7 linked regions of the Homo sapiens genome follow. The protein of the gene in region 1 purifies or fractionates together with the protein of each later gene. This does not show direct contact. Each region holds a gene or a part of one and is shown in the gene's direction. Other genes may lie near its edges. The genes, in order: JOSD2, SMARCA2, RAB29, EIF3B, AHCYL2, DAPK3 and TYSND1.

Region 1 (2,694 bases):
GACAGGGACTTTGTCCAAGGCATTGGGGAGCCATGGGAGAGCTGAGAGCAGGAGAGGGCCAGGGCCGTGTGGGAATGGACTGGAGGGAGGCTGGAGGCTGCGGGAGAAGACAGAGCCCATCTGGGGCCTTGGGGACAGGGCAGAGTCAGGGCAGGAGAGACAGGACTTGGGGACAGGGCAGAGTCAGGGCAGGAGAGACAGGACTTGGGGACAGGGCAGAGTTGGGGCAGGAGAGGCAGGACTTGGGGACAGGGCAGAGTCGGGGCAGGAGAGGCAGGACTTGGGGACAGGGCAGAGTCAGGGCAGGAGAGACAGGACTTGGGGACAGGGCAGAATTGGGGCAGGAGAGGCAGGACTTGGGGGTGGATGAGTTGTGGGGTCTGAAGCGGGGAGAGTCAAAGGCTGAGGCAACTTGTGGCCCCTGGGACCCCCATTTTGTGGGGAGGCCTTTCCAGGGGTCCCCACCTCAGCTCTGGCCACCCCCACTACCAGGTTGGCCCCAGACTCCCGGCTGAACCCTCATCGCAGCCTCCTGGGCACCGGCAACTATGATGTCAATGTGATCATGGCCGCTCTGCAGGGGCTGGGCCTGGCCGCCGTGTGGTGGGACAGGAGGAGGTAGGCCCCAGAGCAGCACAGCATGTGCTGGGCCGGGCACAGAGGGCACCCTATAGTGTGAGCCTGTTGGGGGGCAGGGAGGGGAATGTGGCTGGGGGAGGTTGGCATGAATGTGGGAAGCCTGGCACTGATGGGTTGAAAGGGGGAGATCAGGTGGTCGATGGGCTGAGATGCTGGGTGGATGATGGTTACTGGGTGAATGCTGAGTAGGCCGTTGGATGTGTTGGGTCAGGGGGAGTGAAGTGATGGGTGTTCCTGGGCAATGGGCAGCAGACAGGAGGCTGGGGAGTTGGGTGGATGAATGGGAAGTTTTGATGGCCGGCTGGCCAGTGGCTGGGCATGTGGCTGGTGGATGAGGGGTAGACCAATGGCAGGGGGGTCAAGAGTGAGTGAGGATTGGGGGCATGGCGAGTCCACTGTTGGGTGAATGGCTGGCTGGGTGGTGGCCGGCTGTGTGGGTGGGTGGGTGGGTGGTGGGTGGTGAACAGTAGATGGCTAGTTGGATGGTGATGGTGGTTGGGTGGTTGACGGGGAGGTGGGGCGGGTGTATATGAGGGATGGAAGTGAATGCATAGATGGGAGGTGAGTGTGTGAATCGTCATTGGGAAGTTGGCTGGTGGCTGGGAGGCTCAGTGGGGTGGGCGGATCATGCATGGATCCTGGGTGGCTGTGTGAGGAGTTGGTAAGTTGGTGGGTGGGTGGCTGGACAGACAGGGTGATGGTGGTTGGTGAAGGGCCGATGTGAGTTGGGTGGACGGTGGGTGGGTGGGTGGACGGTGGGTGGGTGGGTGGGAGGTCTGGTTGGGTGGCCGCATGGGTGGGAGGTTTGAGTGGGCAGGTGAACGGATGAGTGTCGGGAACCAGGGTGGCTGATTAAGGAACACCTCTGGGTGGGCTCAGGAGGCCCTCACCACCACCAGCCTGGGCCCCACATGTTCAGCAACATTTCACCGGCGGGCGGAGCAGGCCCTGATGGCAGTGTCCCCTCCCTGCCCACACAGGCCCCTGTCCCAGCTGGCCCTGCCCCAGGTACTGGGGCTGATCCTGAACCTGCCCTCGCCCGTGTCGCTGGGGCTGCTGTCACTGCCGCTGCGCCGGCGGCACTGGGTGGCCCTGCGCCAGGTGGACGGTGTCTACTACAACCTGGACTCCAAGCTGCGGGCGCCCGAGGCCCTGGGGGATGAGGACGGAGTCAGGTGAGCCCCACAGAGGCGATTCCAAGACCAGGGGCCTGAAACCCCACTCCCCAGACGGAATGCCCAGGCTGGCCGAGCCTCAGTCTCCCCATTTCTCCCACCCAGGGCCTTCCTGGCGGCTGCGCTGGCCCAGGGCCTGTGCGAGGTGCTGCTGGTAGTGACCAAGGAGGTGGAGGAGAAGGGCAGCTGGCTGCGGACAGACTGACCATGGCTGACCATCGGCGCCCACAGCGCAGTCCCTGCGCATCCCCCTCCGGCTGCGCACACTGCATGCCTGGGAAAGGCCAGCACTTCATGGACCCTGGGGAGGCCCCGCCCCCTCCCCACACCCCTGCTCCCCACTGCCGCTGCTGCCTCAATAAATCTGCTGATTTGCTGCCTGCCTGGCCTGTGTCTGACGGCCCCACCCTTCTGGGGCCCCTTCCACTCAGTGACTCCCACTTACCTTACAGGCCAGACACCCTGGTGTGTGGGGCCGAGAGCCCAGGAGGCCTCCTGGTTCTCTGCCACCTCATGCCAGTTTCTCACTGCTGGGCCTCAGTTTCCTCATCAGTGACACAGCAGAAAAAAACACAAGTCCGTGCCCCCTGGGGCTCACGCTCCTCCGGTGCTGGAGAGAGACCAGTGGCAAACAAATGAGTTTGATCTCCTGGGTTCCACGGGGGTCATTGCTAAGGAGAAAGCAGGTGTTTACTTCTTTATTTGATTGATTGATTGAGACAGGGGTCTCACTCTGTCACCCAGGCTGGAGTGCAGTGGGTCAATCACAGCTCACTGTAGCCTTGAACTCCTGGGCTCAAGCGACCCTCCCACCTCAGCCTCCCAAGTAGCTGGGACCACGGGTGCATGCCACCATACCTGACTACTTTCTTTAAATTTT
Region 2 (3,500 bases), on another chromosome or scaffold:
CCACTTTGTCCTTGCTGGGCAACCGGTGGCCATGTCCTTATCCCTGCTCATGCTCAGTTTTCTCATCTATAAAACTGAGGTCATAAAAATGACCTCCAAGCATGTAAAATGTTTAGCATAGGCTGGGCTCCTAGCAAACACTGTTTTATTTCTTTTATTTATTTATTTTTGAGACAGGGTCTCACTCTGTCACCCAGGCCGGAGTGCAGTGGCATGATCTTAGCTCACTGCAACCTCCACCTCCCAGTAGCTCACTGCAACCTCCACCTCCCAGGTTCAAGTGATTCACCTGCCTCAGCCTCCCGAGTAGCTGGAATTACAGGCGTGTGCCACCACGCCCGGCTAATTTTTATATTTTTAGTAGAGATGGAGTGTCACCATGTTGGCAAGGCTGGTCTCAAACTCCTGGCCTCACGTGATCCACCCGCCTCGGCCTCCCAAAGTGCTGGGATTATAGGCACAAGCCGCCACACCTGACCTGCAAACACTTTCTGAATGTTGCCTTTGAATATTAGCCTACTACACATTTTCTACAACACTGCTGCTAATGCCACCTATCTTCTCTTCTTTACCACGGTGGTTCTCAAACCTGGAGGGCTTGAAGAATATGCCAGTGTTTGATCCAGTAGCCTGTTGTGGGGCCTGAGAATCCGTATTTCTGGCAAATTCCCAGGGGGAACTGATGATGTTGGGCCAAGGACCACACCTTGAGAATCACAGCTTTAGAAAATAATTGTCAAACTGAGTTGGAACTGTGAATTTTGCATAGAATTTTTTTTTTGCCAGGGGAAGAGGGGTGATGACAGGGTACTGTCTTTATTTAAAATGTTGATAGTTTGTTTATCATGGATTTGGGGGGCATTAATTTGGGTTTTTAAAATATTTACCTTTTAGGATATTAGTTGATGACTGGGTTTTGGTGCCCCCTTAAATTTTACACCCAAGGTGCGTGCCTCCATTGTTTGACCCTAGTTCCAGCCGTGACTGATAACCCAAATATTCCAAAGGTTAAGGGTGCTGTCAGAAGTTGAAAATTTCTTCTTAGTGAGGCATGTTGGCTCACAAATATAATCCGAGCACTCTGGGAGGCTGAGGCAGAAGGATAGCTTGAGGCTAGGAGTTCAAGACCAGCCTGGATAACATAGCAAGACCCTATCTCTACAAAAATGTTTGTAAAAAGAAATAGCCAAGTGTGGTGGCACGTGTCTATAGTCCCAGCTACTCAGGAAGCTGAGGCAGGAGGATTGCTTAGTCTAGGTGTTCAAGGCTGCAGTGAGCTATGATCATACCGCTGCCCTCCAGCCTGGGCAACAGAACAAAACTCTATCTAAAAAAAAAATTTTAAATATAATTAATAAATATTTTAAAACATAAAATTTCTTCTTTCCTATGTGTGTCTTCACTGTATACCTCTCAAAGTAAAGTACTAAAACCTATGTTTTACAGTATAAGCCGAGCCCAGTGGCTCATGCCTGTAATCCTAGCACTTTGGGAAGCTGAGGTGGCTGGATCACTTGAAGTCACCAGTTTGAGACAAGCCTGATCAATATATTCATAATAAGTACAAAAATCATGCCACAAAACTGTGTGCTATGTTTTTATAAACAAATTTATGTGTGGAAAAAAAGGTAACGTCTCAAAATATTACATGTATGTAGAGATATAGAATTACACGTTTTTTTACCTTTTCAAATATATTAAAAGTATAGACATGCTTTTAAAAAATTATTAGGTTTCTAATTACATGTTAATACAGATGATTTGGAAAATGTAATGATTTTTGTACTTATTATGAACACTTTCCATGGCAATGAGGGTTTTTCTACAGCAACATATATTAATATGTATAATACATATTAACATTCATTAATGAATGTGAATGTACTGTAACGTGTTAATTATACTCTGTTAATCAGGCTGTTTCCCAATAATGCTGTCCTGAGCATTTTACCCATAGATTATTGAAAAGATGTAAAATGTATGTGATGTATACACATTGCCACAGAGAATGGAGTTTCCATTCTTGCCCTCAACATACATAAGCGACTCTTTCCCAACGTCATTTTCTATTATCTATATTCTAGTTAGTGATTCTGCCTTTTATTTGTTATGAATTTAAACTGTCCCAAATTCATGTAGTTATTCCTTTGTTCTAGCATTTGAATACATCTGCATCATCTATTTTAGCTATATATTTCATTATTTTAGAGCCAGATTTCTAATCTGTTTTCAAAGAGCTGCTCTCTTCCCCCATCCATCAATTTAGTTTAATTTCTCAAGCCTTGGTATATTAATTTTCTATTGCTGCTATAACAAATTACCACAAACTTAGTGACTTTAATACAACACAAACTTATTACCTCTTGTGGGTCACAGGTTCAGCATGAGTCTCCCTGGACTAAGATCAATGTGTCAGCAGCCTGCATTCCTTTCTGGATGCTCTAGATAGGAATCCCATTTCCTTGTTCATCCTGGTTCTCAGCAGAGTTCAATTTCTTGTGTTCGTAGAAACAAAGTTCCCACTTTCTTGCTGGCTGCCAGTGGAAGGCTGTTCCCAACAGTGTTCTTTGGCTCATTGCCTCCCCACCCCTACCCCTTGTTCCAACTTTAAAGCCAGCAATGACAGGTACAGTCCTTCTCATGTTGTGTCTCCATGAATCTCTCTTTTGCGTCTTCCTCTTCCACGTTTAAGGATGCAGATGATTAGACTGGGCCCACCTGGATAATCCACTATAATTTCCCCATCTCAGGGTCAGACAATTAACAGTCTAAAATTCCTTTTGCCATGTAATATAACATATTCAGAGGTTCTTGGATTAGGATATGGACATCTTGTGAGGAGATGATATTCTGTCCACCACACTTGGTAGCTAGAACTTTTCATAGGTGCATATGGTTGTATCATAAAACCTTAGGAAGCTGTTTATAGGGCTCACCTAATGGTCCAGTTTATTAGCCTGCTTGTCCATAGTCTGTCAGGTGGGTTTTTTGGAGAGACATATCCACTGACGCGTGCCTGACAGCATTAGAGTGCGCCACACTCCAAGGCACATTTAGATTACGCTCTCAAGGATACATTTTCTTACCCCTATTGCCTGTCTTCTGCCCATTCATTTCCTATACTCCTGTGTCAGGGAGAGCCCACACCTGTATAAATGGACATATTTCACTTTGTCTTTCCACACTGTTTAGAAATGCCCATTATGACTGGCTTCTTTCATCTATTTCTTTCGACGTCCTACATCTTTCCGTTTTCATTAGTAGGTAGGCCTTTTCATCTCCAGTCTCTTCTTCTTCTCCTAAGTTACTCCACCCAAAGCAAAGGGCCCCACCTTATAGCTTGTCAAGCAGCAGACAGTGGGTATAATAGATAGAAGCCTTGGCTAGGAGTACTATTTTGTGTATTAGGATTTGGAATGGAGGAAAGGCAAATGCTACCACCACACTTGAGTTCATAACAGCACAGCTCTCATCTCTTCTGTTAGCTTATGTTTCTGTGG
Region 3 (2,498 bases), on another chromosome or scaffold:
GCTAGATAGGAACAAGGGAAGAAATTTTGATTTAACTAGAAAGCTCTGAGGAAAAAATGGGGCAGCAAAGCCAGAAATTGTTTTTCTGAAGCTGGAATGATTGAGCTGCTCTGAGGACACATGAGCTGAATAGGTGCAGAGCTTTTGTAGATGTTTTGCCCTGAATAGATCTGGAGCAGTCTCTATGTGGATGGAGGGGCTGGCAAGGTGGTGGATTGTCCAGACTATAGGTGGACACTCCCACAGCAGGGGAGGGTGCTTTTTCTAGGTTTAAGGCTGACCTTGGTGAAAAACAAGATCCCCAGAAAATAGATACAGTAAAAATAGTGAATCCTTACTATGTGCCAAGCATTCTTCTAAGTATTTTAAATTCACTGACTCATTAATCCTCACATCAACCCTATCATAAAAGCTACTGCTTTTGGAGAATTGCTTGAACCTGGGAGGTGGAGGTTGCAGTGAGCCTAGATGGCACCACTGCACTCCAGCCTGGGCAACAGGAGTGCAGGAAACTGTTTCAAAAAAAAAAAAAAAAAGCGACTGCTTTTATCTTCACTTTACAAATGAGAAATCTGAAGCACTGAGAGCTTGATTTGCCCGAAGTCAAATAGTATGCAGCAGAGCAGGGATTTGGACTGGAGCAATCTGGGTGCGGAATCTGCCTTGGAAATAATTGGGCTTCATTATCCCTTTATGGGATAGAAAACCAAGAGTCAGAGGGGGAAAGTGAGTGGCCCCATCTGACACATATGCTTACTGCCCTCTTCTACAAGGAATGGGGAGAGGCCGGCTCTTGGGTCACCTTGAGAACTCTCCCCTTTCTCCCCAGGGCAGGAGCGCTTCACCTCTATGACACGATTGTATTATCGGGATGCCTCTGCCTGTGTTATTATGTTTGACGTTACCAATGCCACTACCTTCAGCAACAGCCAGAGGTGGAAACAGGACCTAGACAGCAAGCTCACACTACCCAATGGAGAGCCGGTGCCCTGCCTGCTCTTGGCCAACAAGGTATGTGGCCAATCTCAGAAAATGGTCCCTAGCCTCTATCTGTGGTTAGAAAGGAAGTAAAATGCTCTCTGATTCTGGGCATCCATTTCCCCTTCTTAAGTTGGCAAAATCATCTCTACCTCCTTCAAAGGATGTTGAGGGTGAGTGAGACTTTCTTTCTTTTTTTTTTTTTTGAGACGGAGTCTCGCTCTGTTGCTCAGGCTGGAGTGCAGTGGCGCGATCTCGGCTCACTGCCAGCTCTGCCTCCCAGGTTCACGCCATTCTCTTGCCTCAGCCTCCCGAGTAGCTGGGACTACAGGTGCCCACCACCACACCCAGCTAATTTTTTTGTATTTTTAGTAGAGACTGGGTTTCATTGTGTTAGCCAGGATGGTCTCGCTCTCCTGACCTCATGATCTGCCCGCCTCAGCCTCCCAAAGTGCTGGGATTACAGGCGTGAGCCACTGCGCCCAGCCAAGGGTGAGACTTTCTTTGGGAAGAATGTTGATTATAGATTTCCGATGCTGGTGTTCTTATCCATTGGTGGAAATATGTTTAAAATCCACAGTATCTGAGCCATATTCTTTCTTAGTTGCAGGAAGTTTATGATACTGCCTTTTATTTTTTCTCTTTGCTAGTGTGATCTGTCCCCTTGGGCAGTGAGCCGGGACCAGATTGACCGGTTCAGTAAAGAGAACGGTTTCACAGGTTGGACAGAAACATCAGTCAAGGAGAACAAAAATATTAATGAGGCTATGAGGTAAGTAGCTCATGCTGATAGGCATGCAGATGTATCCATCTTCCACTGTGGCCCTGTGGACCCTCTTTTCTTATTTCTGAGCCAACAATGACAGACTGAGCCATTGGAATGCTAGCCCCTAAAGGTCAGGGATACTGTCTTTCCTGAGATAACTGGGGACAAAGGGGCATTTAAACCTTCTGGCTTTACCAAATACTCTCTGATGATAAGTCAGACTACATCTGCCATTTCTGCTTTTCCTCCAAAATAAGCTTCTCAGGCTTATTTTTTGTCTTTTAGAGTCCTCATTGAAAAGATGATGAGAAATTCCACAGAAGATATCATGTCTTTGTCCACCCAAGGGGACTACATCAATCTACAAACCAAGTCCTCCAGCTGGTCCTGCTGCTAGTAGTGTTTGGCTTATTTTCCATCCCAGTTCTGGGAGGTCTTTTAAGTCTCTTCCCTTTGGTTGCCCACCTGACAATTTTATTAAGTACATTTGAATTGTCTCCTGACTACTGTCCAGTAAGGAGGCCCATTGTCACTTAGAAAAGACACCTGGAACCCATGTGCATTTCTGCATCTCCTGGATTAGCCTTTCACATGTTGCTGGCTCACATTAGTGCCAGTTAGTGCCTTCGGTGTAAGATCTTCTCATCAGCCCTCAATTTGTGATCCGGAATTTTATGAGAAGGATTAGAAATCAGCACCTGCGTTTTAGAGATCATAATTCTCACCTACTTCTGAGCTTATTTTTCCATTTGAT
Region 4 (3,500 bases), on another chromosome or scaffold:
TTTGAGCTTGTGGGAAGGAGTACCCAATTTGTGTAAAAGTTGAGCTTTTTATTGCAGCCTTATAAATTCAGATCAGGCTTGTCAGGCTATTTAATTGTATGGTAAGTGCTTTAGAAGTTACCCTAGGATTTGACTAGTTTCCATAGCAGGGTGTCCGGCACTGCAGTGACTGGCAACTGCCTTTTTCCCTTTTTTTTTCTCTTGTTCGTCTCAATTTTAGCATCGTTGAAAATAAAACGGCGATTATTTTTTAAGGCAGTATTTTCAATATTTCCTTTTTTTTTTTGAGACAGAGTCTCATTCTCTTGCTCAGACTGGAGTGCAATGGCTCACCGCAGCCTCTGCCTCCCCGCTTCAAGCGATTTTCCTGCCTCAGCCTCCCAAGTAGCTGGGATTATAAGCATGTGCCACCATGCCTGGCTACTTTTTGTATTTTTAATACAGATGGGGTTTTGCCTTGTTGGCCAGGCTGGTCTCGAACTCCTGGCCTCATGTGATTTGCCTTCCTTGGCTTCCAAAAATGCTGGGATTACAGGCGTGAGCCACCATGCTGGGTCAGTTTTCAATATTTCCGAAAGTGTTTTTTTGAGACGGAGTCTTGCTCTGTCGCTGGAGTGAGCCACCATGCCCAGCCAACTTTTGAGAATAAATACAGTAAAGAATATTTTCGGACATCTGCATATTTAGTATGTTGGAATTATCATTATTATTATTATTTGAGATGGAGTCTCACTCTGTCTCCCAGGCTGGAGTGCAGTGGCATGATCTTGGCTCACTGCAACCTCCATCTCCTGGGTTCAAGCGATTCTCCTGCCCCAGCCTCTCCAGTAGCTGGAATTACAGGCACCCACCACCATGCTTGGATCATTTTTCTCGTATTTTTATTAGGGACAGGTTTCACCATGTTGGCCAGGCTGGTCTTGAACTCCTGGCCTCAGGTAATCTGCCTGCCTCGGCCTCCCAAAATGCTGGGATTACAGGCGTGAGCCACTGAGCCTGGCCGTGTTCTAAATTCTGACACGTGATGCTTTCCAGCAGCCCTGCGAGGCATTTCATCACATCAAGAACAGCTTCACCTACCACTAAGAAAAAAATACTGTTATTTAATCTCAGTGGGGGTGGCAGCTCCCACCTGTAGTCCCTGCTACTTGGGAGGCTGAGGCAGGAGGATTGCTAGAGCCCAGGAGTTCCAGGCTAGCCTGGGCAGCATAACAAGACCCTGTCTCTTTACAAAGAAAAAAAAAAGTTGTTTCAGGAGCTTGTATATTCTCCAGTCTCCTAGTTTAAGTGCCGGTCTCTGCCCTGATAGTGTTTTTCAAAAAGGCTCTTTGTGATATAATTAAGAAATGTGTATTTGGGCTCTGCCTGGCTCTTGGCACTCAGCGTCTAAACCCTTGTAATTTCCAAAGTGGTAAGTGTCTTTTTGTAGACGAGGACTTGATTGATGGCTGGGGCTCCTTGCCAGGGAACCAACCACGTGATTAGAGGGTGGGACCTTTTAGGTCTCCCCCTGCCACCCAGAAGGAAGAGGGCTGAAAGTTGAGTTGATCACCGGTGCTCAGTGATGTCATTAATCACGCCTCTATAATGAGATCTTCATAGAAACCCAAAAGGACCAGGTTCAGGGGCTCCATGCAGCGGAACAGGTGGAGGCTTCTGCAGGGTGGTGGCCTGGAGAGCACAGGGAGGCTCTGCGCTTCTCCTCCATCTGCCTTTTCGTCTATATCCTCTGTAACGTCCGTTATAATAAGCTGGCAAACCTAGCTCTCTGAATTCTGTAAGCTGCTGCAGTAAATTAATGGAACCCAAGAAGCGAGGGATAGTGGGAGCCCTGCTTTGTAGCCTGTCGGTCAGAACCGGAGGTGACAGCCCACTACTTGCGACTGCCATCTGAAATGGGGGCCAGTCTTTGGGGCTGAGCCTTCAGCCTGTGGGATCTGATGCTAATTCCTGGTAGATAGTGTCTGAATTGGATTAAGTTAGAGGACACCCAGCTGGTGGCCCCTGGAGAACTGCTTGATGCGACACCCACGTCCGGTGTCAGGCGTTGTGTTGAGTGTTACGTGAGTAGGAAAGACACTGTCACATCCCTGTCTCCTGCAGTTCAGTTGTTTATCCTTAGAGCTTTTTAACCTAAGGAATATTGGGTAAAGATTGTTCTGAACGAAGGTGCGTGGTGGTGGGCTCTGCAGCGGAGAGAGGTGGGGAAGCTCACCCCAGACGCGCTTCCTCTTTGGGTTTTTTCCCCATCCCCTGTGAATGGCCATCCAGTTCACGGCCTGAAAACATGAAAATCACTGGGAACAGGAGGTGGGAGAAGAGTTACTACTTTCATCCCAGTTCACTCGAGAGAGGGTTCCTCCTTGAATAATTTCTGGTAATTTGTATTCACAGCACAAATGTGCTGTGAATATATTGAGCATTTAAATATTTACTTGTTTGCTAAAATCTTCTGTAAAAAGTCAGTTTTCATTGACATTGGGATGGGATTCTGCCTGCCTAGATGTTGCAACAAACCTTTCAAAATCTAGGCATCTCTGGAAGATCTAATAGTGGATATTCTTGAGATGGTCTTCTTCATTTGCATTGTGCATTGTTAAAAGCTTTTCACTGTTATTCTCCTGTAGTCTTTGGTTATTACCAGAACTTAATTGACCTGTCTTGACTGTTTACATTTCCATCAAAGGGAGAGAGGAGAGTTCCAGTCCCCCCAGCTGTCATGTTTAAAATCTGAAACAAGCTAGGGTTAGGATTTCTTTTGCTCACAGTGAAAGCATTTAGACAATTCATTGTCTCTTCTTGAAGACTTGTTTAGTGTGCTCAGTTAATGTATTAATGTTTTTCTTGGTAAAAATGATCATTTGAAAAATCTCTCTTGTTCAGAATTACTGGGAGATGTACTCAAAGATCGGCCCCAGGAAGCAGATGGAATCGATTCGGTGATTGTAGTGGACAATGTCCCTCAGGTGGGACCCGACCGACTTGAGAAACTCAAAAATGTCATCCACAAGATCTTTTCCAAGTTTGGGAAAATCACAAATGATTTTTATCCTGAAGAGGATGGGAAGACAAAAGGGTGAGTGTTCTCCTGTTGGAGAAGTATCATCTGTGTCTGGCACGTCATGATGAGGGAGTGTTGCAGGAGATCCTTACTAACACAGCTCCTGCCTTGCCCAGGCACGTGGGCCGTTCACTTCTTCAGGCCGCCCTCAGCTGGAAGCTATCCAGAGCAGTGAATGAGAAGATGATAAAGTTTGTTTTTTTAAGTTAAGGTTTTAAAGTTTTTAAAATTATCTAGAATAGGCCAGCATGGTGGCTTATGCATAAACTCCCAACACTCTTGAAGCCTGAGGCCAGGAGTTGGAGGCTGCAGTGAGCTATGATAACGTAGCTGTACTCCAGTCTGGGTGACAGAGCAAGACTCTGTCTCTAAAATAAATAAATAAAGTAAAAACTAACTAGAATAGTTTTAGTTTCTAGAATTATCAAATACAGGTAAT
Region 5 (3,500 bases), on another chromosome or scaffold:
AAATAATTTAGAGAGGTACAACTGAGGCAGATGGGAAGAGAACAATCTTGGCAGTTGCCCTGATCCACTGCCCTGCTGTCATGTTTAGGTGGTAGACACAATTAGAGGAGCTGAAATTCCATTCACCCAACAAGAGGTTTAGTAAACTTGATCAGATTTCTATGGAATTTGTAGGAGCTTTTTATAGTCTGAATGACCTATGGCCTGCGATTTGGTGAGAGCAGAGCAGAAAGCGGCAGTGGATTGACGTTTCTTCTGTAACAGTTCCCAACTCTAAAATTACTTTGATTAAATTAGATGATTATTTGTATGGGTTTCAGTCTCCCTTTTCCCCAGCTGTATCGTGCAACAGTTCAGTTAGCTATTTCCCTCTTGGACGCTTGCACTAAAAGCTGGTGATTTTATTTTCTTTTTTTTTTTCAAGGGTCTATCAGTAGAAATCTATTGGTTTGGGGCACCTAGTTCTTAGCTTAGAACCTATATAAAGGAAGGGTATTTGAACTGCTGATTGAGTTTCTCTGAGTATAGGACTTTAGCCTTTCTGAATGTTGCAAACCTGAGGCTAAAACTAGCTTCATCTTCTCTGCACACACTTACATTCTACAGTGCTCCAAGGTGAAACTTCATCTATTGACTACCTTTTCTTGGAAACTCTTCTCTTGGCTTCAGTGTCACTTATAATTGCTACCATTTACTGAATACTTACTCCGTGTCAGGAATCTCTGTCTTAGTATTTAATCCTCATGACAACTTTATCAGATGTGTAGTACTATCTTTATATTATGGATAAGAAAATATAGGCTCAAAGAGAGTAATTAACTTGTCCAAGGCTTTGTCAATGAAATGCTGGCCATAGCAATATTGGGCAGCTTTGCCTCTGTGCCAACACCCGTGCTGCTCTGACCAGACTCCCACTGAAGTCTGCTTAAGCTGCTGCTAAGACCACTTTGGATCTCACAATCTAGCCTCTTTCAAGGGGAGGCCTAAACACCATGCCTCACATCCCTGTTTGTTTCAGTCACTACCCGCCATCCGCCATCCATTATCTTCCCAATACTAATTCCTTTACCACTCTCTTCATCCTTCAGCTGATTCAGTCCCTCAAACTGTTCCACCATGTTCTTTACAATATCCCCCTCCTTGATCAGCAGATTCACATGTAGTATCAGTCTCTAGCAGCAAGATCAAGTTATAAGGGCAACAGTGGCAAGTGTTAGCACTTAGTATCCAGAACTGTGATGGTGCAAACCAAGCTGCAGCATCTCCTGCTTGGCATTAGCAATCACATCTTTGCCAACCCAGTTCTGTAATTTTGAGTGTTGTTTTAGCTGTGTAGCACTTAAGTTCTTCACTGAAAAAGTGACCTCATATCCTTTCTGTAAATTCTTTTTCTGTTTAATTCAGCCAGTGTTGACTTCTGCTGCTTGTAGAACTTGGAGTGATGTACGGGTTGAACCTAACCATCTACCTTCTTAGTTGCTGGCACTCATGGAGCTGAGAGTTGCTAGAGAAAATCAGCAAATTAGACAGATCAGTGTCATTAAAAATTTATAATCATCTATTTCATATGCATAATCAGCATTACCTAGCAATGTTATACATTTCTCTAGTTCACTTTCCAGCTCACTGCGAATTATTTCTTCATATTGTCTCTTTCTCTTTTCTTTTTTACTGAGACAAGGTCTCCCTCTCTCACCCAGGCTGGAGTGCAGTGGTACAGTCACAGCTCACTGTAGCCTCAAACTCCCTGGTTCAAGCAATCCTCCTGTCTCAGCCTCCTGAGTAGCCAGAACTACAAGTGTGCTACCACGCCTGGCTATTTTTTTATTTTTTTGTAGAGACGGTATCTTGCCATGTTGCAGGTCTCCAATTCTCGGGCTCAAGTGATCCTCCTGTCTCACCCTTCCAAAGTGCTGGGATTATAGGCATTAGCCACTGTGCCTGGCCTACTGTCTCTATTTCTTTTTCTCTTTTTTTGAGATGGAATCTTGCTCTGTCCCCAGGCTGGAGTGCAGTGGCGCGATCTCCGCTCACTGCAACCTCCGCCTCCCGGGTTCAAGCGATTCTCCTGCCTCAGCCTCATGAGTAGCTGGGACTACAGGCACGCACTACCACGCCCAGCTAATTTTTGTATTGTTAGTAGAGATGGCGTTTCACCGTGTTCGCCAGAATGGCTCAATCTCCTGACCTCGTGATCCGCCCTCCTCAGCCTCCCAAAGTGCTGAGATTATGGGCATGAGCCACCGTGCCCAGCTCTTATTTCTAATCTCTCATATTTTCTTCTTTTTTAACCAGTCATAGGCTTTATGCCTCATTATAAAAATGGAAGCTGCTGAATGGGAATTCCTTCATTCTTTTACCTCCCAAGTCTACAAACCTATGTGCATCTGGGACTCATCTTTTTCTCCTTCATTCTGTCAAGACCAATCCCTTCACAGGTGCTGTAATCATTCTTTTCTCCCCCTCCCCCCTTCCTCCTCCTTTCTTTTTCTATCTTTCTTCTCTCTCTTTCTCTTTGTTTTCATTCATTTTTCTTCAAGAGATGAAGTCTCACTCTGTAGCCCAGGCAGGAGTGCAGTGGTGTGGTCATAGCTCATTGCACCCTCAACCTCCTGAGCTCAATAGAACCTCCCTTCTCAGCCTCCCGAGTAGCTGGGACTATAGGTGCATGCCACCATACCTGGCTAATTTTTTTATGACTTTCTTGTAGAGATGGGGTCTCTTTTTTCCCCCTAGATGGAGCCTTACTCTGTCACCCAGGCTGGACTGCAGTGGCACTATCTCGGCTCACTGCAACCTCCGCCTCGTGAGTTCAAGCAATTCTGCTGCCTCGGCCTCTCAAGTAGCTGGGATTACAGGCATCCGCCACTGTGCCTGGCTAATTTTTGTATTTTTAGTAGAGACGGGGTTTCACCAGGTTGGCCAGGCTGGTCTGGAACTCCTGACCTTGTGATCTGCCCACTTTGGCCTCTCAAAGTGCTGGGATTACAGGCGCGAGCCCACACCTGGCCAAGATGGGGTCTCTTGCTATGTTGCCTAGGCTGGTCTTGAACTCCCAGCTTCAAGTGATCCTTCCTCCTTGGCCTTTGAAAGTACTGGGATTATAAGCATGAGCCGCTGCACCCAGCCACATTTTAAAAACTTTTTGTAGAGATGGTGTCTCACTTTGTTGCCCAGGCTGGCCTCGAATTCCTCGCTTCAAGCAGTCCTTCTGCCTCACCCTCCCAAAGTGCTGGGATTACAGGTGTGAGCCACTGTGCTTGGCCTCTCCTGTCTTAAAGAATTTCTTCCTTTGGTTTATTTCATCTTTCTACTAGGTCTTTTCCTTCAGAATTCACACTTGCCCTATTGTCTCCCATTTTGAAAACCCTGTCCTTTGACCTGCATATTTTCTGTTGCTGTCATGTTTTTCTATTCTCTTTCACAGGCATGCTTCTTAAAGGAGTTTTCAGTACATGCTATATGTGCTTTTTTCCTCTCATGAATTCCTTAACTCACTC
Region 6 (3,500 bases), about 47 Mb from region 1:
TTCTAGCGCTTTGGGAGGCCAAGGCGGGAGGATCGCTTGAGCCCAGGACTTCAAGACTAGCCTGGGCAACATAAGTTGACCCCCATCTCTCAAACAAACAGAAATTCATAATTTTAAAAAAAGTATTTAGCCTTCTGTTTTTGCCGTGAAGCCTTGGAGGTCTGGTGTGTATTTCATGTCGCAGTTTTTCTCGGGACTGGCCACACCTCACGGGTTTGACAGCTCTGGGTGGCCAGTGTCTGCTGTTCTGACGGCACTGCTTCAGGTAGTGGTCTGGAACATTCTCAGAGATACATGAAGTGCAAGATGAAGGCCCAGAATGTAGCAATTTTTGTTTGTTTGTTTGAGACGGTGTCTGGCTCTGTTGCCGAGACTGGAGTGCAGTGGTGCCATCTTGGCTCACTGCAATCTTCGCCTCCCGGGTTCAAGTGATTCTCCTGCTTCAGCCTTCCAAGTAGCTGGAATTACAGGCGCCCACCAACGTGCTCAGCTAATTTTTGTATTTTTAGTAGAGACGGGGTTTTGCCATGTTGGCCAGGCTGGTCTTGAACTCCTGACCTCAAATGATCTGCCCGCCTCTGCCTCCCAAAGTGCTGGGATTACAGGTGTGAGCCACTGTGCCTGGCCCCAGCCCACACTTTTTTTTTGAGACGGAGTCTTGCAGTGTCGCCCGGGCTGGAGTGCAATGCCGCAATCTCAGCTCACTGCAACCTCCGTCTCCCAGGTTCAAGCGATTCTCCTTGCCTCAGCCTCCCGAGTAGCTGGGATTATAGATGCCTGCCAGCACGCCCGGCTAATGTTTTTGTATTTTTAGTAGAGACGTGGCTTTCACTATGTTGGTCAGGCTAGTCTTGAACTCCTGACATCGTGATCTGCACGCTTTTGCCTCCCAAAGTGCTGGGATTACAGGCGTGAGCCACTGTGCCCGGCTTCCCAGCCCGCATTTTTAAACATCATGAACTCTATCAGTAGAAATTGTCGGTGTGTAGGCCACGCTTGGGTCGTGTCTGGGTTGTGGCAGGCACTTAGGAAGTGGGTTGGGAGTGACACCTGAGACCATCACTGAGGAGGGCTTGCTGTGCCCCCACCTGCGCTGGGGGCTGGGGAAGTTACAGAGAAGCGAAGAGGGTGGGCTCAGCTCTTGGGGAGTTTCTTTCCCGGCTGGGGAGATGAGGCACGTTTCACATTCCGTAGAGGAACTGAGAGCCTGCCAGTGGCCTTGCCTCTAAGGAGCAAGTCTGTGGCCAGTGAGACCGGGGGCTGTCTGGAGGTGGGCGGCTGTGGTCTGCTGTTGCTGTAGGAGGACTCAGTGGCAGAACCTGAAATCTGGTTGGCAATAGCAAAACAGGGAAAGGCGTGGTTTACAGAACCAGGTTGTCCAGGTGTGCAGCGGCCGCAGGTGTGACTGGGTGCTGGTGCATATGGTGCCCTGTGTCCCCGGGGCCGAAGTCCACTCCAGCATGGAGGAGGCGCCCTGGCAGAGTGAATGACGGGGCTTATGTGCCACCCGCAGTGCCTGGTGGCTCCCCTCTCCTGGCCTGGTCTGTTCTTAGGCAGGCTTCTTAGGTAGCCTTCTACGTGGTGGCCCCTGCCGCGAGCCTGGATCCAAGCCCAGCAGAGGGAGAGAGAGATCCTCTCTTCCCAGCAGGCGTTCAGAGCCCTGTGGACTGGACCGGTCTCTTTGGGCTGGAAGGCGTGGTTTTCTGCTTGCCCAGGTCCAGTCGTGTCCCCTTCCACCCCTTTCCTGGGCCACTGAGTCCCACAGACTGAGAGTGAGCGGCAAAGGCTGCCCTGGGACAGCTGGGTCTGTTAGCAGGAGACAGCGTGGAGCCGGGAGGTAGGCACGCAGGAACCCGGTACCCAGCAGCAGCTGTCTGCTTCCTGTTAGAGCACCTGGGCTCTGGAGCCTGCAGCACCTGGTTTGAAGGTTTGAATCCTCCCGCCACTGACTGACTGCATGACCTTGGGCTAGTTGCTTTCCTTTTCTCAGCCTTGGTTTCTTTAAAATGCGGATACTGGCCAGATGTAGCGGCTCCACCTGTACTGCCAACACTTGGGGTGGGGGAGTGGGAGGATCTCTTGAGGCCAGGAGTTCCAAAGCAGCCTGGGCAATACGGCAAGACCCTGTCTCTACAAAAAATAAATAAATCAGGTGTGGTAGTGTGTTCCTGTAGTCCCACCTACTTGGGAGGGATCACTTGAGCCCAGGAGTTCGAGACCAGCGTGGGCAACATAGTGAGACCTCATCCTTACAAAAAGAAAAAAAAATTAATTGGGTGTGGTGGTATGTGCCTGTAGTCCCAGCTGCTTGAGAGGCTGAGGCAGGAGGATTGCCCGAGCCCAGGAGGTCAAGGCTGCAGTGAGCCATGACTGAACCACTGCATTCCAGCCTGAGCAACAGGGCCAGACCCTGTCTCAAGACAAAACAAAACAAAAACAAAAAAAGCGGATCTGGCACTTGCCTTGCACTTTTTATTTTTTTGAGGCAGGATCTTGCTACGTTGCCCAGGCTGGAGTACAGTGGCACAATCTCAGTTCACTGCAACCTCTGCCTCCCAGGTTCAAGCGATTCTCCTGCCTCAGCCTCCCAAGTAGCTGGGATTACAGGCACCCGCCACCACACCCAGCTAATTTTTTGTATTTTTGGTAGAGACAGGGTTTCACCATGTTGGCCAGGCTGCTCTTGAACTCCTCAGCTCAAGTTATCTGCCCTCCTCGAACTCCCAAAGTGCTGGGATTACAGGCGTGAGCCACCGCGCCTGGCCCCCTCAGTTCCCTCTTGATATGCATTGAACTGTTCATTCTTTCACTTTTCAAAAATACGCCGGTGCCATGGTGTTAACGTGTGGCTCTGCACTCCCCTCCACACACCTGCTGGGCATAGCCCTGGGAGGGGTGGGAACGCCGCGTCTGATGGTGTGGGGCGCTAAGGAATTGCTCTCTGAGAAGGCGCAGAGTCTGCACCCCCGCAGTGGCCAGCTCATGTCCTTCAAGTGCCTGGTGCAGGGCCGCGCCCAAGAGGAGCAAGTGGAGGTGACGGGGAGCCAGCCACCCCCACTTACTCCCTCCGCCTCCTCCACCCCCACTCACTCCCTCCCCCTCCTCCAGCGGCCAGTTTGCGATCGTGCGGAAGTGCCGGCAGAAGGGCACGGGCAAGGAGTACGCAGCCAAGTTCATCAAGAAGCGCCGCCTGTCATCCAGCCGGCGTGGGGTGAGCCGGGAGGAGATCGAGCGGGAGGTGAACATCCTGCGGGAGATCCGGCACCCCAACATCATCACCCTGCACGACATCTTCGAGAACAAGACGGACGTGGTCCTCATCCTGGAGCTGGTCTCTGGCGGGGAGCTCTTTGACTTCCTGGCGGAGAAGGAGTCGCTGACGGAGGACGAGGCCACCCAGTTCCTCAAGCAGATCCTGGACGGCGTTCACTACCTGCACTCTAAGCGCATCGCACACTTTGACCTGAAGGTGAGCCCTGTAGGGCCCTGTGGGGCCGGCC
Region 7 (3,110 bases), on another chromosome or scaffold:
ACCGAGCAGGCCAAACAAAATATGTCTGTGGGTCTGATTCATTCATTCATTCATTCATTCATTCATTCATTCATTCATTCATTCAACAAGCCTTTGTTGCGCGCCTACTTGGCACAAGGCACTGTTTCAGGTACTGGGGAGACTGCATGAACAAAACCTCAAAGTCCTGCCCTTATGGAGCTGACACTAGGTCGAGAGAAAGATAACAAGTGAAATAAGTGAACTATCTAGTGTGTTAGATTTTGAGAGTGTTAAGGAGAAAACGTAAAGCCAGGAAAGGGTGTGGGCAGCAGGTGTTCATGTCTAGAAGCTCAGCGTCTGTCACCACGTGGGGTGGTATCCAGCCCTACCAGGCCCTGGGGGCTCCAGGGTGGAGATGGTCCTCCTCCCTTCTCCAGCCTTTCTGCCCCCTGGCTCACATCCTCTTTTGCTCTCTGACTCCTCAACAGGCATAATCACCAGCAACACCCGGGACAATAATACGGGGGCCACCTACCCCCACCTGAACTTCAGCATTCCCATCACGGTGCTCCAGCCGGCCCTGCAGCAGTACAGCCAGACCCAAGACCTAGGTGGCCTCCGTGAGCTGGACCGCGCTGCTGAGCCAGTCAGGGTGGTGTGGCGGTTGCAGCGGCCCCTGGCAGAGGCCCCGCGGAGCAAGCTCTGAGGCTGTGTTACCACCTTTGGAAAGAAGAGTGACCTTTTTCTGCTGTAGGAAGTGATGTTGAGGTGACGGTGGCCTCAGGATTCAGGGCCCAGCCCCTGCAGGGGCCCAGGCTGCCTCTCATCTCCACCCACTGACTGCAGACTGGGCTTTGGGCTCTGGGGCAAACTTCTCTTCAGCCCCATGGATCCTTAACCTGGCAGCCCGTTTTGGGGTGCTTTCTTGAGCCCCCAGTTCTCTGTCCCCTAGCACTAGACTCAGCTGTATTGTTTTTCCTTCTGGGGAGCCCACTCCAACTGCACAGAAGTTCTGGGCCTGACAGGTAGATTCCAGCTGGAAGGCAGGCCCGTGCCTGGTTTTGCGTCTGTTCCCCTGAGGGCCATCGTCATCCTGGAGCTTCAATGGGGCCTTGGCTCCTGTCTGCCTCTCAGTCAGAGTCAGGGCTGACAAAGGACTCAGCTTCCTTAGCATCTCAGCAGAAACCTTGCTCTGAAGACCAGAGACAGAAGGGACAGAAACAGGAGTGCCTCCTGCTGTGCCAGGCCCATGGGCAGTGCAGGCAGATCCCTGAAGGTCAGCACTCCTGGGTCTTCATATGCCAACAGGGGCGCTCTTGACACTGTGCCTTCATTTTCCAGCCCACAGCCTGGGTCTCAGGGATCTTGAGGGGTAGAACATGTCTGGTTGGGGCTTGGGAATAAACATGATCTATTGAAAAACCTCTGTATTTATATATCAAATTGTTTCTTTTTTTCAGGAGTTGAACTGGGAATAGGCAAGTACCAGGCAAAGAAACACACCCTTTCCTTTTTTTTTTTTTTTTTTCTTTAGAGCTGTGGTCTTGCTCTCTCACCCAGGCTGGAGTGCAGTGTTGCGATCACAGCTCACTGCAGCCTCAAACTCCTGGGCTCCAGGAGACCTCCTGCCTCAGCCTCCTGAATAGCTGGGACTACAGTCGCGCACCACCACGCCTGGCTAATTTTTTATTTTTGTAGAAATGGGGTATTGCTTTGTTGCCCGTGCTGGCTTCAGCCTTCTGGTTTCAAGCAGTCCTCCTGCCTCAGCTTCCCAAAGTGCTGGGATTACAGGTGTGAGCCACTGTGCCCAACCCAGAAATACACCCTTTCTGTGCTGTTTTCTCAGCAGGGTGTGAGCTCACGGGATACGGTCCTGCCAGACTGGCCCTCATAGCTGGTCATGTGCCAGTCAGAGCTGGGTGGGGCTTGCAGGTCCCGGAAGGTGGTGGTCTTGACCTGGCAGCAGATGCTTAAAGAATGCCTAAGGTGGGTGGCAGTTGGGGAGTTCAAGGGTGAATGAGGCCAGGGCAGCCCCCAGGAGCTGAGGCCAACTCTTTGAGTCAGGACTGTGCCGTGTGCCCAGGGCCTTGCATGTGTGGGCCCTCGAGTGATTTCTACTGGCAGGCTGAAAGCCCTGTGAGGGGCGGCTGTGGGCGGAGGCCACGCAGGAAGAGTGCTTAGGAGTAACTTGTTTCTAACACCTGTGTGCTGAGTGCCAATGCTGGGTGTGGTGTTATGATATATATTGGTTTTCATCCAGCATTCCTGACTCGTAACTCTCATAGTCCTTGTTCCAGTCTTTGTTAGAATACTGGGTATGTTAGGGCTTGGGACAGGCCTCTGACCTCTGGGTATCCTTTCACTAATGTTCGCCCACCTTTTTCACAGTGGGTCCTAAAGACCTTCCCATGAGAGGGTCTCAATCCTAGGGGAAGGAATGTTGATGTCATGAACCTTCCATAAAAACCCAAGAGGACAGGGTTCAGAGAGCTTCTGGATAGCTGAACACCTGGCACTTCCTGGAGTGTGGCGTGCCCAGGGAGGGCACGGAAGCTCTGCACTCCTTCCCCTTCCCTCATTCCTTGCTCTATGTGCATCTCTTCATCTGTATCCTTTGCGATATCCTTTATAATAAACCGGTAAACATAAGTAAGTGTGTCTCTGAGCTCTGTGATCCACTCTAGCAAATTAATTGAACCCAAAAAGGAGGTCGTGGGAACTCAACTTGAAGCCAGTTGGTCAGAAGTTCTGGAGGCCTAGACTTGTGCCTGGTGTGGTTGAGGGGGGCAGTCTTGGAGACTGAACCCTCAACCTGTGGGGTCTGACAATGTCTCTGGGTAGATAGTGTTGGAACTGAATTAGAGGACACCCGGCTGATGTCCACTGCTTTTGGTGGGGAAACCCCACACACATTTGGTCACTGAAGTCTTCTGTGTTGATGATTGTGATGGCATGAGAGTAGAGGGAAAACACGATTTGAGGAGAGTTTTTCCTAAAACACGGGGCAATCACAGAACACTCCTGGGATGGTTGTTCCTCCCTTTACAGATTAGGAATGGGTCCAGAGGTCATGGCTAGTTTAAGAGAAGTTCTACAGTAAGTTAATGGTAGCAGAATCCTAGATCTGAGGTCTGACTTTGCTGTGAGAG

Evidence for each region.
Region 2: the proteins of JOSD2 (region 1) and SMARCA2 purify together in Homo sapiens (affinity purification with mass spectrometry, with the first as the bait; 2 studies listed by BioGRID). This does not show direct contact.
Region 3: the proteins of JOSD2 (region 1) and RAB29 purify together in Homo sapiens (affinity purification with mass spectrometry, with the first as the bait; 2 studies listed by BioGRID). This does not show direct contact.
Region 4: the proteins of JOSD2 (region 1) and EIF3B purify together in Homo sapiens (affinity purification with mass spectrometry, with the first as the bait; 2 studies listed by BioGRID). This does not show direct contact.
Region 5: the proteins of JOSD2 (region 1) and AHCYL2 purify together in Homo sapiens (affinity purification with mass spectrometry; 5 studies listed by BioGRID and IntAct, with this or other methods). This does not show direct contact.
Region 6: the proteins of JOSD2 (region 1) and DAPK3 purify together in Homo sapiens (affinity purification with mass spectrometry, with the first as the bait; 2 studies listed by BioGRID). This does not show direct contact.
Region 7: the proteins of JOSD2 (region 1) and TYSND1 purify together in Homo sapiens (affinity purification with mass spectrometry; 4 studies listed by BioGRID and IntAct, with this or other methods). This does not show direct contact.

Annotation. Positions count from the first base shown.
Region 1 is NC_000019.10:50,505,498-50,508,191, reverse strand, and holds the end of JOSD2 (josephin-2), read left to right. Parts: intron 1-492; coding exon 493-618; intron 619-1,619; coding exon 1,620-1,814; intron 1,815-1,919; coding exon 1,920-2,019; 3' UTR 2,020-2,194; downstream 2,195-2,694. UniProt on the Homo sapiens protein: Cleaves 'Lys-63'-linked poly-ubiquitin chains, and with lesser efficiency 'Lys-48'-linked poly-ubiquitin chains (in vitro). May act as a deubiquitinating enzyme.
Region 2 is NC_000009.12:2,186,347-2,189,846, forward strand, and holds part of SMARCA2 (SWI/SNF-related matrix-associated actin-dependent regulator of chromatin subfamily A member 2), read left to right. Parts: intron 1-3,500. UniProt on the Homo sapiens protein: ATPase involved in transcriptional activation and repression of select genes by chromatin remodeling (alteration of DNA-nucleosome topology).
Region 3 is NC_000001.11:205,769,985-205,772,482, reverse strand, and holds part of RAB29 (ras-related protein Rab-7L1), read left to right. Parts: intron 1-829; coding exon 830-1,011; intron 1,012-1,628; coding exon 1,629-1,750; intron 1,751-2,029; coding exon 2,030-2,141; 3' UTR 2,142-2,498. UniProt on the Homo sapiens protein: The small GTPases Rab are key regulators in vesicle trafficking. Essential for maintaining the integrity of the endosome-trans-Golgi network structure.
Region 4 is NC_000007.14:2,357,827-2,361,326, forward strand, and holds part of EIF3B (eukaryotic translation initiation factor 3 subunit B), read left to right. Parts: intron 1-2,883; coding exon 2,884-3,076; intron 3,077-3,500.
Region 5 is NC_000007.14:129,231,530-129,235,029, forward strand, and holds part of AHCYL2 (adenosylhomocysteinase 3), read left to right. Parts: intron 1-3,500. UniProt on the Homo sapiens protein: May regulate the electrogenic sodium/bicarbonate cotransporter SLC4A4 activity and Mg(2+)-sensitivity. On the contrary of its homolog AHCYL1, does not regulate ITPR1 sensitivity to inositol 1,4,5-trisphosphate.
Region 6 is NC_000019.10:3,964,600-3,968,099, reverse strand, and holds part of DAPK3 (death-associated protein kinase 3), read left to right. Parts: intron 1-3,108; coding exon 3,109-3,469; intron 3,470-3,500. UniProt on the Homo sapiens protein: Serine/threonine kinase which is involved in the regulation of apoptosis, autophagy, transcription, translation and actin cytoskeleton reorganization. Involved in the regulation of smooth muscle contraction.
Region 7 is NC_000010.11:70,137,481-70,140,590, reverse strand, and holds the end of TYSND1 (peroxisomal leader peptide-processing protease), read left to right. Parts: intron 1-449; coding exon 450-667; 3' UTR 668-2,610; downstream 2,611-3,110. UniProt on the Homo sapiens protein: Peroxisomal protease that mediates both the removal of the leader peptide from proteins containing a PTS2 target sequence and processes several PTS1-containing proteins.